Linked DNA regions of Homo sapiens: region 1 is linked to region 2. The links come from fine-mapping of genetic effects on gene expression. Tissue or cell type: cerebellum. Region 2 holds a variant in brackets; the other region holds the start of a gene. All regions are shown on one strand. Distances are between the middles of the regions.

Region 1 (8,102 bases), 31 kb after region 2:
AGCTAATTTTTAAAATTTTTTTGCAGAGACAAGGACTCATTATATTGCCCAGGCTGATCTCAAACTCCTGGGCTTTGTGATCCTCCCACCTTGACCTCCTAAAGTGCTGGGATTATAGGCATGAACTACTGCACCTGGCCTCACTTTTTTTTTTTAATGGCTAACTAGACTTCACAATGTGTTCCCCACACTAGGGTTGTCACTGAGAAGTATAAGGAGCAAAAAAAGGTGAAAAGAGAAGGATGAGGAGGAAACTTAATATTATACAAAGCTCCTGGGAATACTGGAGAGCCCCTTTCCCGGGGGCACTTCGAGGAGGAACAGGTTGCCGCTGCAGAGGAAGGAACATCTGGGTTCCATGACTTGGCAACAGGCTCTCCTTGAGGGTCACTCACCGTCACAGGCTCTCTCTGCACTGGAGATCCGGCCTTCTGGAGGCTGGCAGGGAGGACGTGCTGAAGCAGGAAGGGCTCAGCTTTGCACCAGGCAGATGTCCTTTGGAATCCTGGCTCTGCTGCTTACAGCAGTGTGACTTCGCAGGCAAATCGTTTAACCTCTCTAAATCCAGATAGCCTCATTTGTAAGAAATGAGCAATGCTACCTCCTGTGTGGAGTAGCAAGGATTAAATGATGTGTTGTAAAACACCAAATAGACCCGGGCTCATAATAGGAGTTCAGACAGTGCGATTTTCCTCCCTCCTCCTTTCATGGTGGTCTTTAACTTGTATTTATTCTGAAGTTTGTTAAGGCTGTTGGGAACTCAGAACACATTTACTCATAAAAACCAGTAGCCCTGGGCTTTGTGAGGTCTGACCCCCAACCCCTGCCTAACTCACCATCCCCATTCTCTTCCCATCACCCTCATTCAGGGACTTGACTTTCAAGACATGGTGGGTTCTTCTGCTGTCTTCCAAATACCCGCTTGGGTTCCCCACCCATAAGCTTTTGCTCCTTCACCCCAGAATCTCAGACCTTTGCTTAGAACTGTCCATCAAATCAATATCCAGGTGAAATCCAAATTCTAGCTCCTCCATCTCCCAGTGTTATGCAGAACTGCTTTCTTTCTCGTCTGAATTCTTATTCTACTTTATCTGACCGAGTAGTAATATGAGCTTTATAATAAAAATCACAACATATTGCCTTTTGTGGCTGTTACTGTGGGGAGTGTCACATATTCTTATATCCCTCACACTGTTCAATAACCACTTTCTGTGGGATAAATAATAATAGCTGCATTTGTTGCATGCACACTATGCCAGGCAATGTGCTATGGCCTTTATCTACCTTTCTTCATTTAATTTCCACGACAAGGTTAAAAGAATGTATATGACCCCAGTATTCTGGGTGGAGCTAAGGGTCAGATGGAGTAAGTCACTTTCTCAAGGTCAAGTCGGCAGAAACTGAAGGAGCAAGGATTCCAACCCAGCAATGCGGGACTCCCAGCTCTGTGCTCTTTCTACTTCCCAGGAAACGGAGCCTAAGTTAGCAACAACAAACCGAAGTCGAGGACTGAGGACATATGCAACCCCCGGTTTGGGTGCAACCTTTATCAATATCCTAAACTGACAGATGACGTAGAGGCAGCCGTTTCGCTGACTAGGGAAGGTAGCCCAAGAAAGCTAAGATGCTAGAATCCAAATTTAAGGTCTACGAGACGCTGCAGAAAACATTTACAGTCACTAGAGGGCTCTCTCTCCCTTAAGCAAAAAGCGCAGCACCGCCCGCGCGCGGTAGTCTCGGAACCCCGCCGCCGGGAGGCCGCTGGCAGCTCCACGCCACCTCCCTGAAGCCCAGTCCATTTTGCCTACATCCCTGTCCGGGCAAGCCCTGGAGAATCCATAGGGCAGTGCCCCAAGCTGGAGCAGTTTTCACAGCCACATCCCGGGCTGCACTGGGTTAGGGATGCTTTGAGGTTCCTCTGGGGGCTCCCTGCTCTCTGCTTACCAAGCAGGCGGGAGTTGGGAAGGGGAGAAGGAGTGCAGACTCAGGGGTGGGGTAATCCAGAAATGCATCCCTCAAAGGCCAGCCTGGCCTGGTCCAGGCCCTAAGCTCTCTGGGGAAGGACGGCAGGGAACCCCGCCTTGGCGGGCTCTGCGGGTCCTGCGCCCGGGTAGATTTTGCTGAGATGGGGAGAGGGGACCCCCTCCACGCCCCCGGAGTAGTGAACACCATTTTGTTTGAAAGTATCCTGCAAAGAGAACCACCTCACGAGGCCATGGCTGCCAGGGGACTCCTCTCCCCACCGGATCGCCGGGGAGCCCGGGGAGGGAGGGATTCTGCAGCTGCAGCTTGGAGGTCCTTGATGCTGCATTTTAACGCGCATCGCAACGCCTTTGGAGTGACATTAAGTGCAAAGAGGCAAATGACTAATCCAAACTATTATTACAACTGCAGAAAATAACACAGATCAATGGCAAAGGCTTGAACCGGGATTAGCTAGGGAGGTGGGACAAACCGGGGATGATCCTTCCTCTCCTTTTTTAGATTTGTTTATTTTGGTAAATTATGTATGTATTTAAACATGAAGAAACAGGTGAAGCGAATGTAAATTGGGTTATAAATAATTTCCAAAGGCTTCGCTGTCCCTTGACAGAAGCCAGAAATAAGACAGGCACTGGGCCTGAGCGCTCTGGACAGGGAAGCACCCGCGTGGCGCTGGGCAAAATCTTCTCAGTGGAGAGAACGCACTCCGGGTTCGAGACCTCCCCGGGTGCAGATGCGAACTGCGGTGGCCCCAAGTGGCCGTCCACTTTGTTCATGAGAACAGTTTTCCTATAACGCCCACCCGGCCCTTTGCATCCCGCAATCCCGCGGGCGTCGGAGCGGGTCTTGGCGCGAACCAGGCGGCCTCGGCGGGGTCCTGCGGCGGAGGGCAGCGCGGCCGCAGCCCGGGAGAGGCGGCCGCGGCATTGTTTCAGCCCCTGGGGTGGGATCCAGCTGGGGGAGGGGAGGCGGGGTGTCCTCCGGAACCGCCCCCGGCCCTCCCTGGGGACCCGTGCCTCAGCGCGTCCAGGCTTTGTGGTGTCCTGAGTCGCCATGGAAACCCGAGGGAACGCGGAGCCGGGTGCTAGGGGGGTCGGTGAGTTCTCCGGCCGCGCCCTCCGTCCGCTCTCGGACCCCGGCCCTGCAGCAGGGCCTGCCGGGAGTTGTAGTCCCCAGGCGGCGGCGGCGCGCGGCGCCAAGGATGCGGGACGCCGCCTGTCCCCGCCTCCCCTTAACCTGCTAGCTGAGGTGGGGAGCGGCGGGAGGAGCCGGCCGCGCGGTGATTGGCGGAGGCCGCTCCCAGCCCCCGACACGCGCCCCTCCCCCGCTCCCCACTCTGGACTCCCGCGCTGGGCGCGCTGAGGCGGCCCCCGAGCGAGCGCGCGTGCAGCCGCCGCCGCCCCGAGCACCCGCAGCTCCGGCGCCGCGGCGAGACGGAGACGGACCGAGCCACGGGCCCCCGCGGCCGCAGCATCTCGGAGGAGTGGGTGATGGCAGGGGGGTCGGTGGGCTTACCCCTCCCGGGCTAGGACATCCTCCTCTCCCCCTTCTGTTTCTGCGTGAGGCGCACAAAAGGGCGGGGAGCCGGGTGAGCCTGGGGCCCGGCCGCAGGGGACGCGGCGGGAGGTGTGGTTTGGGGTTGGGAGGTGGCCATCGGGGCTAAGCCGGGGCGCTCTTGGGGTCCTCTTTGTACGCCCGCGAAGCGCCGTGCCGGGCCTTGCTCATAGTAAGCGTTTAATGCGTGCTCGCGGGGTTGCAAAGCCCTGGGGTGAGGAGGCGGCTCGGCCGAGGGGTTTCGCGCCTAGCACGCAGTGGGCCGCTTTCCTAGCCGGGCGCGGTGCAGTGGACCGCTGGAGGGCTGGGCGGGGGCGCCTCTGGCCGGGGGCCAGTCCTGCCGGTCCCAGGATCTGCGCTGTCCCCGGTCCCACACACCACCCAGATACACACCCTCCGTCCTTCTCGCCTCCGAGCTGGGATCTGCCCAGCCTGGACCCGACCCGGCGGTCTGTTCCACCGCCCGGCTAACGGAGCGGACGCCTGCAGAGGACTCGCCCGCCGCCTCCGAGCCTCCCGCCTGAGCCACAAAGGCCTCCTGCGGCTGCCCAGCCCGGAGCGGGCGCCGAGCCGGGTCCCTCGGCTGGAGCCCAGCGCGGGAGCCCGCCTTGCAGCATCGATCTCAGCGGGCACCGACGTCGACGCCCCGGGCCTGGGGACGGGGCTGTAGTCTGAGCTGGAGAGAAGCCGGGAGAGGGCGAGGGGAGGCCTCGGTTGAGAAAAGATGGGGATGGGGAAGGCTGGGGAGCTGGGTTAGGACAGGTAGTGGGTCTCGGGGAGCAGGGAGTGGGAACTAGGGTTTGAGGAGGAAAGAGAAGGGGCGGGGGCGGGTCCGAAGAACGAGGGAAGGAGCTCGGTGCAGGTGGCGCCCGGCGAGGCTGGTTCTGCTGAAGAATGGGGAGGGGAGGAGGGATGCAGGCGGGTGGAGGCCGCCTGGGTTTGAGGAGGGAGGACGGGAGCGAGGAGAAGACCCGCGCTGTGCGGGGGAGGGGGGCCTCCTGGGAAGGGGAGCCTCCCGAGGAGGGAGGGGCAAGCAGCTGAGAGGCGGTCTCGGGCCCGAGGATCCTCAGCTCCAGGCGCGGGGCCCCGCGGCCCAGGTGGCCGGCTGGGCGTGGCCCTCGGACCGGGGTTAGGGACCCAGGATGGCAGATCCGGGACCGGGCTGGGCTGGCTTGGTGAGGAGCTTTGTCTCCAGGCTTGAAACCAGCCGGTAGCGACTCGCTTAGGGTTTTGTGATCTTCCGCGGCGCCCACGGCACGCCCTTTTCTCGAGGAGCTGAAAGGCTTTGCCCAGCAGCAGGTGCTGCCAGGGAGGCGGATCTCCCTTCGGGGAGACCCGGAGAACAATAGCCGACCCTGGTGTCCATCCGACGACAAACCAGGGCCACCCAGGACGCGAGGGTGCAGTTTTCTGGTGCTGGGAATACTCCCTGCGGAACCTCCGGGCACGTGCTGGCTTTGGGGTTTTATGGGGGCCTGGCCACGCCGGGAATCCCGTGTGGGAGGCGCTCCCCCGGCCTGGGGGCCTGCAGACAGCCACCCCCCCACTCCGGCTCGGGTGCCTTCTGGTGCAGCGCCGCCGCCCGCCCCGCGCTGTCCACCCGCTGCCGAGACGCGGCGTGGTTAGCGGCGCGGAGCTGCCGGGCGGCGACGCAGGTGCCAAAGACTGGAGGTCGCCTCGGTGCAGCGCGGGTTCCCCCGAGCAGCGGCTTTGTCTGCCGAGGCGGCCGTAGTCTAGGGGCTGCAGCTGTGCTTTCTCAGGGGGAGCCGTAAGGGCTGGTGCGGATTGTGGTCAAATTGCGGAGAAGCGGGTGGAAATGATCCCGCAAGGGTGAGGCTCTAGGTTTGGGAGCCGCTGCTAGGGGTCCAGTGCTTTTCTTTGCCAGTGACCACACCCAAGCCAGTGCGTCTCTTGCAGACTTCGCCCATATTGTCTGCTGACCTAAGACTGGGGTAGCTCTGTGATAGGCGCTGCTTGCCCGTGGGAAAGCAGATGAACCGAATGGAAGCTTAAAACAGGCTTTCAGCAGGGCTTTCCACGCACTCAGCCTCTCGCCCGCCGTCTAAACACCTTGCAAGTCACCGCTGCAGCGCCTTGACATGTGAAGTGACACCCAAAGCCAGAATTCTGTGTTGCACTGTTGCTTTGATAACTGGTTAGATGACAAGTTAAAGGTGAATCTTTAGCATAAAGTTATCATTTTAAATTGCCATTCATTAAAAAAAAAGGCAGGAATGTTTTTGTTCCCAGACTGGGCGATACTTGGCATTGTAGAACTCATTGATGCCACTTACATTTGCCACTAAGTTAACTGAGAACCTGTTGGTTCTCTTAACCCAGCCTTGAAATCTCAGGATTTGCTTTCTTAACAAGATTAGTGTGTAAGGTGAAGGACTGTGCTGTGGCTGTTGGCTTTTGCCCAGGACAGATGATAGCTGTCAAAGTGAAGGCCTCTTGTCTGAGTGTCCTTTCTGGCCATAGGGAGTCAGCAGTAGGCTATGTCTTGCTGGTTTTAAAGGATGGTGTTTTGAGGAGGTGCCTCACAGAATTTACAAAACTGATCTGGAAGGACTAGCTGGAACATTGCTCATTGGTTGTTTTTAACTATATTTTAACTGAATTATATATATGTATATATTAATATGTATATACACACATATATATATACACATACTATATTTTACTAAATTATATATGCATGTGTGTATTTATGCATACACACAAACATGGATTCAGAGTACATAAATACTAGGAATCTCAATATTAGAAACCTAGAAATCTGACAGTGAAGGTTTTTTCTTGTAAGAGAGCTCCAATGGGAAACATGTTTTCATATTATTACCCAAAGGGAACAATTTCAGGAAGGAGTGTTTTGTTGGCTTCTTTTTTGTAATAATTTTATGGATTTTTAAAAGGATGTAATCTTCTTAAAGCACTCTGTGAACATCCATTGCAGTCTGTTCCTCATGGCAGGGAATCCATAGACAAGGAATGCCGGTATGACCAGCCTGACGTGAAGGCCTGGCTGTTGTCAGCGTAACCTCTCTAGGTGCAAACATTAGCAGGGTTGTTGCATTATTCTTAATGCTTCTATCTCTGGAAAGAGTTCCACAGCAAGGCAAGTTTACACAGTTGGCCAAAATCAGGTCTCAGGACTTGGCGTAAACTTCATTTGTGGCACTTCCACGTCTCTTCTCCTGCCATAGCTATCTGAGAATTTCCCCTTAATAGCTTCTCTGACCCAGGATTCTGTATGATCCTGCATTAGCTCCACGGGACTATAAGCCAAAGGACAGCATGACTATAGGCAGGTCTCTGGGGTAAAAGTAAATTGTGGCCAGGCACAGTGGATCACGCCTGTAATCCCAACACTTTGGGAGGCTGAGACAGGAGGATCACTTGAGGTCAGGAGTTCGAGACCAGCCTGGCCAACATGGTGAAACTCCATCTCTACTAAAAATACAAAAAAATTAGCCTGACGTGGTGGCGCACACCTGTAGTCCCAGCTACTTGGGAGGAGGCTGAGGTGGAGAATCACTTGAACCTGGGAGGCCGAGGTTGCAGTGAGCTGAGATCGTGCCACTGCACTCCAGCCTGGGCAACAGAGTGAGACTCTATCTCAAAAAAAAAAATGTGAATTGTGTGTTCAGATCATTTTCTTGGGGCATAGAAAAATATTGAGAGCCAGAGAAGTTGGACAAGAGTATCTGAGACCCAGTCTATCTTCCTGGTGTGAAAATTTACCAGTTTCTGATAGAATCTGATCTTGTGTATCTTTTTTGTTTTCTGAGGTATAAAAACATATTCCAGAAAAGTCTTCTAAGACTTAATTCACAGGAATCCTGTAGAACAAGATATCTTTGTCAACATGAAGTCCTGTAGGGAAAACTTGGTGTAATATGGGAGCAAATAAGAATAAATGTGTTTTATCATTTTTCCAATAAGCAGGTGTTTGATTTCATTGCACTGCTGGTGCATAAATGAGAAATAATTTCAAAATCGCTTTGCCTTGCTTTTTTTTATGTGAAGATGAAAGGTTGAAATACCATAACATGAATCTTTTGTGAGCTTTGGTATTTATGTATAAAAGTGGGCACAAATTATACACTTGAACAAAAGAAATTCAGGGAGGAACATGGTGTATGATTTGTTCTACTTCAGTCTTTGAAACTTGTTTCATTTAAAATAAGCTGATTTAACCATTGATTGAACCCGAGCTTGCCAAGCACTCCCATCAATCACAGCCCTGTTCTGTACTTGTTCCCTCGCCTCCCTCCTCCCTCGTCACAATCCAGGCTCAGCGGTAGCGTGTACAGGAGGGAGAGCCAGAAAGCCTGGGTTCAGATTTCACCTTGGCCACTTTCTGTTTATCTGTGCAATGAGGATGGTTGTATTAGGTTGGTGCAGAAGTAATTGCTGTTTTTGCCATTACTTTTAATGACAAAAACTGCCGTGACTTCTGCACCAACTTAACAGTATCTACATCTGGGGTTGTTCTGAGGCTTACATGTGTTAATGGTTAGCACTGAGAGCAGCATCTGGCATCTTGTAAGTGCTCAGTAAAA
Region 2 (8,102 bases):
TGTACAAGTCCTGGAACTGACCTTCTTGGAGGTGGGCCAAAGGAACCCATTCCTCAGTGCTGGCCTCCCAACATAACCCCAGCTCCCCAACTTGGGCGCCACACCCACCAAATCCCTCTACGGAAACAGCCATCTGCCCTGGACTGGCCTCCAGCTAGTCTGTGAATTCGCTTCTCCTGAGCCACTGGCTTCACCATCCATGGCCGGCCAGGGATTCTGAAGTCTGATAGCTTCAGCTCAAAGGGAGAGCTGGAACTCACTCACTCACTCACCTCCTCCGCAAACATCTATTGGGTTAATCGGAGGGTTTACCGTGGGATTCTGTAGGCGCCTGTAGAAACAGAATTCCAGGCCGGGCGCGGTGGCTCACGTCTGTAATCCCAGCATTTTGGGAGGCCGAGGTGGGCGGATCACGAGGTCAGGAGATCGAGACCATACTGGCTAACGCGGTGAAACCCCGTCTCTACTAAAAACACAAAAAATTAGCCGGGCGCGGTGGCGGGCACCTGTAAACCCACCTACTCGGGAGGCTGACGCAGGAGAACGGCTGGAACCCGGGAGGCGGAGCTTGCAGTGAGTGGAGATCAGGCCACTGTGAGAGGTGACAGCGTGCTGGCAGTCCTCGCAGCCCTGGCTCGCTCTCCGCGCCTCCTCTGCTTGGGCTCCCACTTTGGTGGCACTTGAGGGGCTCTTCAGCCCACCGCTGCACTGTGGGAGCCCCTTTCTGGGCTGGCCAAGGCCGGAGCTGGCTCCCTCAGCTTGCGGGGAGGTGTGGAGGGAGAGGCGCGGGCGGGAACCGGGGCTGCGCGCGGTGCTGCGGGCCAGAGCGAGTTCCGGGTAGGCGTGGGCTCGGTGGGCCCAGCATTCAGAGTGGCCGGCCGGCCCTGCCGGCGCCGGGCTGTGAGGGGCTTAGCACCTGGGCCAGCAGCTGCTGTGTTCAATTTGTCACCGGGCCTTAGCTGCCTTCCCGCGGGGCAGGGCTCGGGACCTGCAGCCCGCCATGCCTGAGCCTCCCCCCGCCCATCGACCACCCAGGGGCTGACGAGTGAGGGCGCACGGCCCGGGACTGGCAGGCAGCTCCACCTGCAGCCCTGGTGCGGGATCCACTGGGTGAAGCCAGCTGGGCTCCTGAGTCTGGCGGGGACTTGGAGAACCTTTATGTCTAGCTAAGGGATTGTAAATACACCAATCGGCACTCTGTATCTACCTCAAGGTTTGTAAACACACCAATCAGCACCCTGTGTCTAGCTCAGGGTTTGTGAATGCACCAATCGACACTCTGTATCTAGCTACTCTGGTGGGGACTTGGAGAACTTTTGTGTCTAGCTCAGGGATTGTAAACGCACCAATCAGCACCCTGTCAAAACGGACCAATCAGCTCTCTGTAAAACCGACCAGTCGGCTCTCTGTAAAATGGACCAATCAGCAGGATGTGGGTGGGGCCAGATAAGGGAATAAAAGCAGGCTGCGGGAGGTAGCAGTGGTAACGCGGTGGGGTTGATCTTCCATGGTGTGAAGACTTCGTTCTTTCGCTCTTTGCAATGACTCTTGGTGCTACTCACTCTGGGTTCACGCTGCCTTTATGAGTTGTGAGACTCACCGCGAAGGTCTGTAGCTTCACAGCTGAAGCCATCGAGACCACGAACCCACCAGGAGGAACGAACAACTCCAGAAGCACCGCCTTAAAAGCTGTAACACCCACCGCGAAGATCTGCAGGTTCACTCCTGAGCTGCCGAGACCACGAACCCACCGGAAGAAAGAAACTTCGAACACATCCGAACATGAGAAATAACAAACTCCAGATACGCGTCTTTTAAGAACTGTAGCAATCACCGTGAGGGTCCGCGGCTTCATTCTTGAAGTGAGACCAAGAACCCACCAATTCCGGACGCAACTGCCCTCCAGCCTGGGCGACAGAGCGAGACTCCGTCTCAAAAAAAAAAAAAAAAAAAAAAAAAAAAAACAGAAACAATCCCACCCAGCTTTAGCAAGTCGGAGGAGGTGAGGCCCACTTTTCTACTTTCCTGATTGGAAGGAGAAGGAAGTGCACAGGCAGAGCGGGAGGCGGGGGGGCCGCCGGGTGGGGGGCGCCGGGGCGGGGGCGCCTGCCAGGCCCAAGGGCAGTGAGGGAGCAGCTGGACTGAGTAGAGAATTGCGGCGGGGTGGGGGGAGTTTTTTTTGTTTGTTGTTTCTTTACGTGTGTGCGTGTTTCAGAAGTGAAGACCAGAATTAGAGTGGTTATCTAAAGACAGATTTGAATCTGGGGTTTAGAAGAAAACAGCGGTGTTACAAATGAAAACAAAATGGGTCCTGTCTGAGAAGCCCCAGGAGAGAACACCTATATTATTAAAGGAAGCATGGACACTAGTGAGCCTTATATTTCTATTCTTTTTTTTTTTTCTCTGAGACAGAGTGTCGGTCTGTCGCCCAGGCTGGAGTGCAGTGGCGCGATCTCAGCTCACTGCAACCTCCGCCTCCCAGGTTCAAGCAATTCTCCTGCCTCCGCCTCCCAAGTATCTGCGATTACAGGCGCACGCCACCATGCCCGCCTAATTTTTGTATTTTTAGTAGAAACAGGGTTTCACCATGTTGGCCAGGCTGGTCTGAAACTCCTGACCTCAGATGATCTGCCCTCCTTGGCCTCCCAAACTGCTCTATTCTATTCTCTCTCCTGTCTCTCTCTTTTTTTTTTTTTTTTTTTGAGGCAGGGTCTCACTCTGTCATCCAGGTTGGAGTGCAGCAGCCCCATCATAGCTGACTGCAGCCTTGAACTCCTGGGCTCAAGCGATCTTCCCACCTCAGCCTCCCAAGTAGCTGGGAGGACAGCCACCGCTCCTGGCCTGAGTCTTCTATTGTCTTTCCTTTTCCTTTTGGTCTGGGGGGTTCCTCACCTTTTTCCTTTATCTAGATTAGTGGCGCATTTATACTCGAGTAAATGACTGTACTTTTTAAACTGCTATAATATTTTGAGGGGCAGGTTAGAGGAGTCATAAGCCTTAGTCCTAAAGAGCTTGTGTTACTTCAAGCATCAGTCACATAGGGGAGGGGACAGAGGATGGTCTCAAGTGTTCTGAAATCACTCTAATGTACGTAGAGGGGCCAACCAGAAGAGGGAAGCTATAGTGTCTAAAGAGTTCCTGAGCCTCTGATAAGGGGAGAGCATGTGACAACAGTGAAAATCCATTTAATGCCAAGGGGGTGGGGGGATTTAGAATTACTTGCCTGAGAA[G/A]CAACATCATCTCAGGTGGCAGCCAAGCCTTCATACTGGAAGCAGAGAAGAACCGCCTCCTCCCTAGTGATGCAGGGCTAGGGGCAGGATGGGCTGGCCTCTCTCCTAGGCACAGGCTGAGCCCTGCAGCCCCTCCCATGGGAGGAGCTGGCTATTTCCCTCCACCCTAGTGCTTTCAGGAACTCAGCCAGGCCCAGGCTCCCTCCCCTTCTCACCTTCCAGCTCTGCCGTAGGTCTGAGCTTCTGCCACAGTGGCCTCATTTCCCTTCTCATGCCCAACAGGTGCCCCAGGGCTCTGACCCACAGGTCACTTTATACAGAATCGTGCATTGCAAATTGTTTTTTCTATGTCCAGGAGATTCAAGAGTCATCTCAAATATGATTTGAACGGGAGTTTCTTTGAATTCATTATTGGTAACTGGCTAATCAATAAAATTCCCCCTGGACATGAAGAAGACAAGACAGGATTCGCCCCTGGTCAGAGTTTTACAGAGGGTTTTTTTTTCCTTTTTTTCCCCCCCCCCCCCCCCCGAGATGGAGTCTCGCTCTGTTGCCAGGCTGGAGTGCAGTGACGCGATCTCGGCTTACTGCATCCTCCACCTCCCGTGTTCAAGCAATTCTTGTTCCTCAGCCTCCCAAGTAGCTGGGATTACAGGCACACGCCACCACGCCCAGCTAATTTTTTGTTTTGTATTTTCAGTAGAGACGGGGTTTCACTATGTTGGCCAGGCTGGTTTCGATCATCTGACCTCGTGATCTGCCTGCCTCAGTCTCCCAAAGTGCTGGGATTACAGGCATGAGCCACCGCGCCCGGCCTTACGGAGGTTTTCTTCATGACTTGTTTCCTTTTCTTCATTTCATGCTCCAGTTTCATTATTTTAGTGAATTTGAGCTGAGAGTAGCTCCAAACCACATAATGAAGAATATTCTACTTCAATTACAGTTACCCATTGTTCTGTGGGGTCTGGGGTGCATGGATAAAGATATTAACCTGGCTTCATAATGATGGCAAGAGGGGAAAGGGACGTAGATTTCAACTGGTCTGGGTTCATGTGTGTACACACACACGCACACGAGCACATAAGCCTTATTAAGATGCACTGTGGAATAATACAAAGGTACAGGGAGAACAGGCGTATTTACAGGCTGTAAGTGGGAATGTAATGTAACATTTTCTATACCAAAACCCTTAAAAATATGAGTACCCAACAATTCTGTCATCAGATTTCCCTTAAGGAAATTAGACAAGGATACTAAGATGGATATTCAAAAATGTTTGTTCCAGATTGTTTATAATAGCAAAAAAATGCAAACAACTTGAAAGTCCGGAAATAATCTGAGTTCTTAATTGGAAGCAACAGAAATCATTGCTAAGGTAGACAGGAAAGGGTTTTATTAAAAGGACAGGATATGGCTTTAGGTGGTGTAGCCAGGAAGAGCGGGTGCCTGAAAGCCTGGGCAGGACTGGGGCAGTGGACTCACTTCTACAGTGTGCACCTCCAATCCTACAGGCGCCAAACACTGCGTATCACCACCAGCCCCACGGCCACCAGCTGCTCAGGGATGTGCCATCTTGCTGAAGCCTCTGCCTCTGCCAGACTGGGTTCCTCCAGGGCCTCTGCTTTTGCACCCCCAGCTCCTAGTTCCAAGCCTGGTGTGGGTGCATGTGATGGGCAGGGACTGGATCCCATGCCTGTAAGCTAGTGACAAGAGAGTCAGGAAAACTGACGTGGGGCTTTCAGCAACTACAGTGGGAGGCTTCCACTAGAAGGGAATTGGGATGCTGAGAAGCTAAAGAGACTGACAAATGTGCACTAGATTAAGAAATAGAAAAATAAATTACGATACCTGAATACAAGTGAGATATTGTAAGGGAGCAGAATCTAAATCTACAAACTTGGTTTTTCTATCGATACATGATTTTTATTCCAAGTGCTCAGCTGGAGTGGGAGTAGTTATGGCAAATTAATCTCAGGGAGTTGTGATTCTTCTGTGGGGTGTATCTAAATTTTGGGGTCTTACACAGTGCAACAGCAAGGACCCTCTGCTGTAAATTGGCTTATTGTGATGAGACAGTCTATCGTCCCACCCTGACAGCTGGGCTTGGGCTGGGGAAAGGCACAGGGCACCCTTGCTTTAGTATCCACATGAGCTGTGCTGCTGCACGCTCCTCCCTCCTGCTCTTGCTCTCCTCCACCCACACCTGGAAGCCTTTATCTAGTGCCAAGCATGAGGACTTGCTCAGACTCATATTCTGCCAAATCTATTGATTATGCCTGAGTTCTTTCTGCTCTCCCCAGGGGCGCAGCTAGACCATGCCCAGCCATATTCATCTCTTTTATGGGGCAGTGAATAGAGAATGCCCTGGTTGACTGACCTGGGAAAGAACCGAGAAATTGGAGCAGACTTTTCAAAATAATATTCCTTGGCTGGGCGTGGTGGCTCACGCTTGTAATTCCAGAACTTTGGGAGGCCAAGGCAGGTGGATCATGAGGTCAGGAGTTCGAGAACAGCATGTCCAACATAGTGAAACCCCGTCTCTACTAACAATACAAAAATTAGCTGGGTGTAGTGACTCGTGCCTGTAGTCCCAGCTACTCGGGGAGGCTGAGGCAGAAGAATCGCTTGAACCTGGGAGGCAGAGGTTGCAGTGAGCCGAGATCGCGCCACTGCACTCCAGACTGGTGACAGAGCGAGACTCCGTCTCAAAAAATATATGATGATGATAATATCCCTTGACTCTCTATACCTATTGCTAATTTTTTTCCAGAAAGGTAAAATCATGACTCATACTAATACAAAATGAACACATCTTAAAGACTTTATTTAACTCGTTAACTACTGAGAGAACCAGTAAGATATAAAAACTGTTTCCGCGGAGAATCCAAAAAAACAAACACGTATGTAGATGACCAGGAATGCGGAAATGAATTACTAAGAGATGGCCTCTTTCACTGAATGAAATGAATTGCATCTTTAATGGGAAATGTATTTACATGTTTATAAGCTGGAATAATTTGCAATCACAGACAATGAAAGGTGCAGACCATATAGAATCAGATAACCCGGTAAAGTCTAAGCCTTGCTTTCCACAGAAAAGATATGTATTCATTTTCTAGGTCTGAGAATCACAACACAGAATGGGTTGGTTGGTTAGTATTTTTTGTAGAGACAGGGTCTCAGTATGTTGCCTAGGCAGGTCTCAAACTCCGGGGCTCAAGACATCCTACCTCAGCCTCCTAAAGTGCTGGGATTATAGGCATGAGCCACCTCACCTGAACTGGGTGTTTAAAACAACAGAAATTTGTCTCAAAATTTTGGAGGCTAGAAGTGCAAAATCAAGGTGTTGGCAGGGCTTGGCTCGCTCTAGGCTCCAGGGAAGCCTCCTTCTTTGCCTCTTCTGGCTCCTGCTGGTTTCTGGCAATTCTTGGCTTCTCTGGCTTGTAGATGCATCACTGCAATCTCTGCCTCCATAGACACGTGGCATTCTCCCCATGTCCAGATTTCCCACTTACTAGGACATCGGTCATATTGGATAAAGGCTCATTCTAATGACCTCATCTTAACTTGATTAAATCTGCAAAGACCCTATTTCCAAATAAGGTCACATTCACAGTACTGAGGGTTAGGACTTCAATATATGTCACTTTGGGGAGTGACACAATTTAACCCATAAGAGTGTTAAAGAGGCTGGGCACGGTGGCTCACGCCTGTAATCCCAGCACTTTGGGAGACCAAGGCGGGCGGATCACGAGGTCAGGAGATTGAGACCATCCCGGCCAACATGGTGAAACCCTGTCTCTACTGAAAATACAAAAAAATTAGCTGGGTGTGGTGGTGTGTACCTGTAATCCCAGCTACTCGGGAGGCTGAGGGACAAGAATCACTTGAACCCAGGAGGCAGAGGTTGCAGTGAGCCGAGATCGCGCCACTGCACTCCAGCTGGGCAGCAGAGCTAGACTCTGTCCAAAAAAAAAAAAAAAAAAAAGTGTTAAAGAAAAACTGAAGACAAATTAAATTGAATAGCATTTAACCGAGCAAAGAATGATTCACTAATCATGAGTCCCCCCAAACAAGAATAGGTTCAGAGAGACTCCAGGGCTGCCATATTTATGGACCAAAAACAGAAAGTGATGTACAGAAAATGAAAGTGAGGCACGGAAACAGCTGATTGGTTACAGCTCAACGTTTGCCTTATTTGAGCATGGTTTGAATAGTTGGCCACCTGTGATTGGCTGAAACTCTGTGATTGGCACACGAGTAGGTTACAGTCTCTTTACACATCCAGTTTGGCTGGAGTTTACTATCTATGGAGAAACGCTTAGGCCGAACTTAAAATATGTAAGGAGGGAGCTTTAGGGTTAACTTAATGTAACAATAGATACCCAGTAATCTTTTTGTCCGGTAAAACATTTTCTACAATTTTCCTGACTTCCCTTGCCCTCTTTTTGATCATCATAATCTCCAAAACTTTTCTTGATGGCAATACACAAAACACCAGTCTCACTAGATATGTGCTAATTATTTACATGGGTGCAACAAGAATGTTAATCACATAAGCCTCTTTCTGTTTGCTTTGCAAATCCAGAGCCATATAGTATTAGCATCTAAGGCCAGAAAATTAACTTCTGTCTTTAGGTTTTCATTGGGAATCAAAGACTCAATTAATTAATTTGTTGATTTATTAGGTCTTGCTCTGTCTGCCGGGCTGTAGTGAAGTGGCATGATCACGGCTCACTGCAGTCCTAACCTCCCAGGCTCAAGCAATGCTCCCACCTCAGTCTCCCAAGTAGCTGGGACTACAGGCACTCACCTCCACACCTGGCTAATTTTTGTATATTTTGTTGAGACAGGGTCTCACTATGTTGCCTA

Which allele goes with the higher level. Alleles are on the strand shown, and positions count from the first base shown. SD is a standard deviation of normalised expression in the study named.
For the expression in cerebellum of the gene that starts at base 3,344 in region 1, G is the high allele of the variant in region 2 and A is the other (small effect, 0.37 SD a copy in GTEx).

The links. PIP is the estimated chance that this variant, and not a neighbour inherited with it, causes the effect.
Region 1: DPYSL5 starts here. The variant in region 2 is fine-mapped to the expression of DPYSL5 in cerebellum (GTEx, PIP 0.94).

The regions. Positions count from the first base shown.
Region 1 is chr2:26,844,789-26,852,890 of GRCh38, forward strand. It overlaps DPYSL5 (dihydropyrimidinase like 5), which reads left to right and starts at 3,344. Exons shown (of 13, transcript NM_020134.4): 1 at 3,344-3,466.
Region 2 is chr2:26,813,694-26,821,795 of GRCh38, forward strand. No RefSeq gene overlaps it. Among named protein-coding and RNA genes, the nearest start is that of DPYSL5, 30 kb to the right of the region's middle. The variant G/A (reference allele first, on the strand shown) is at 3,231.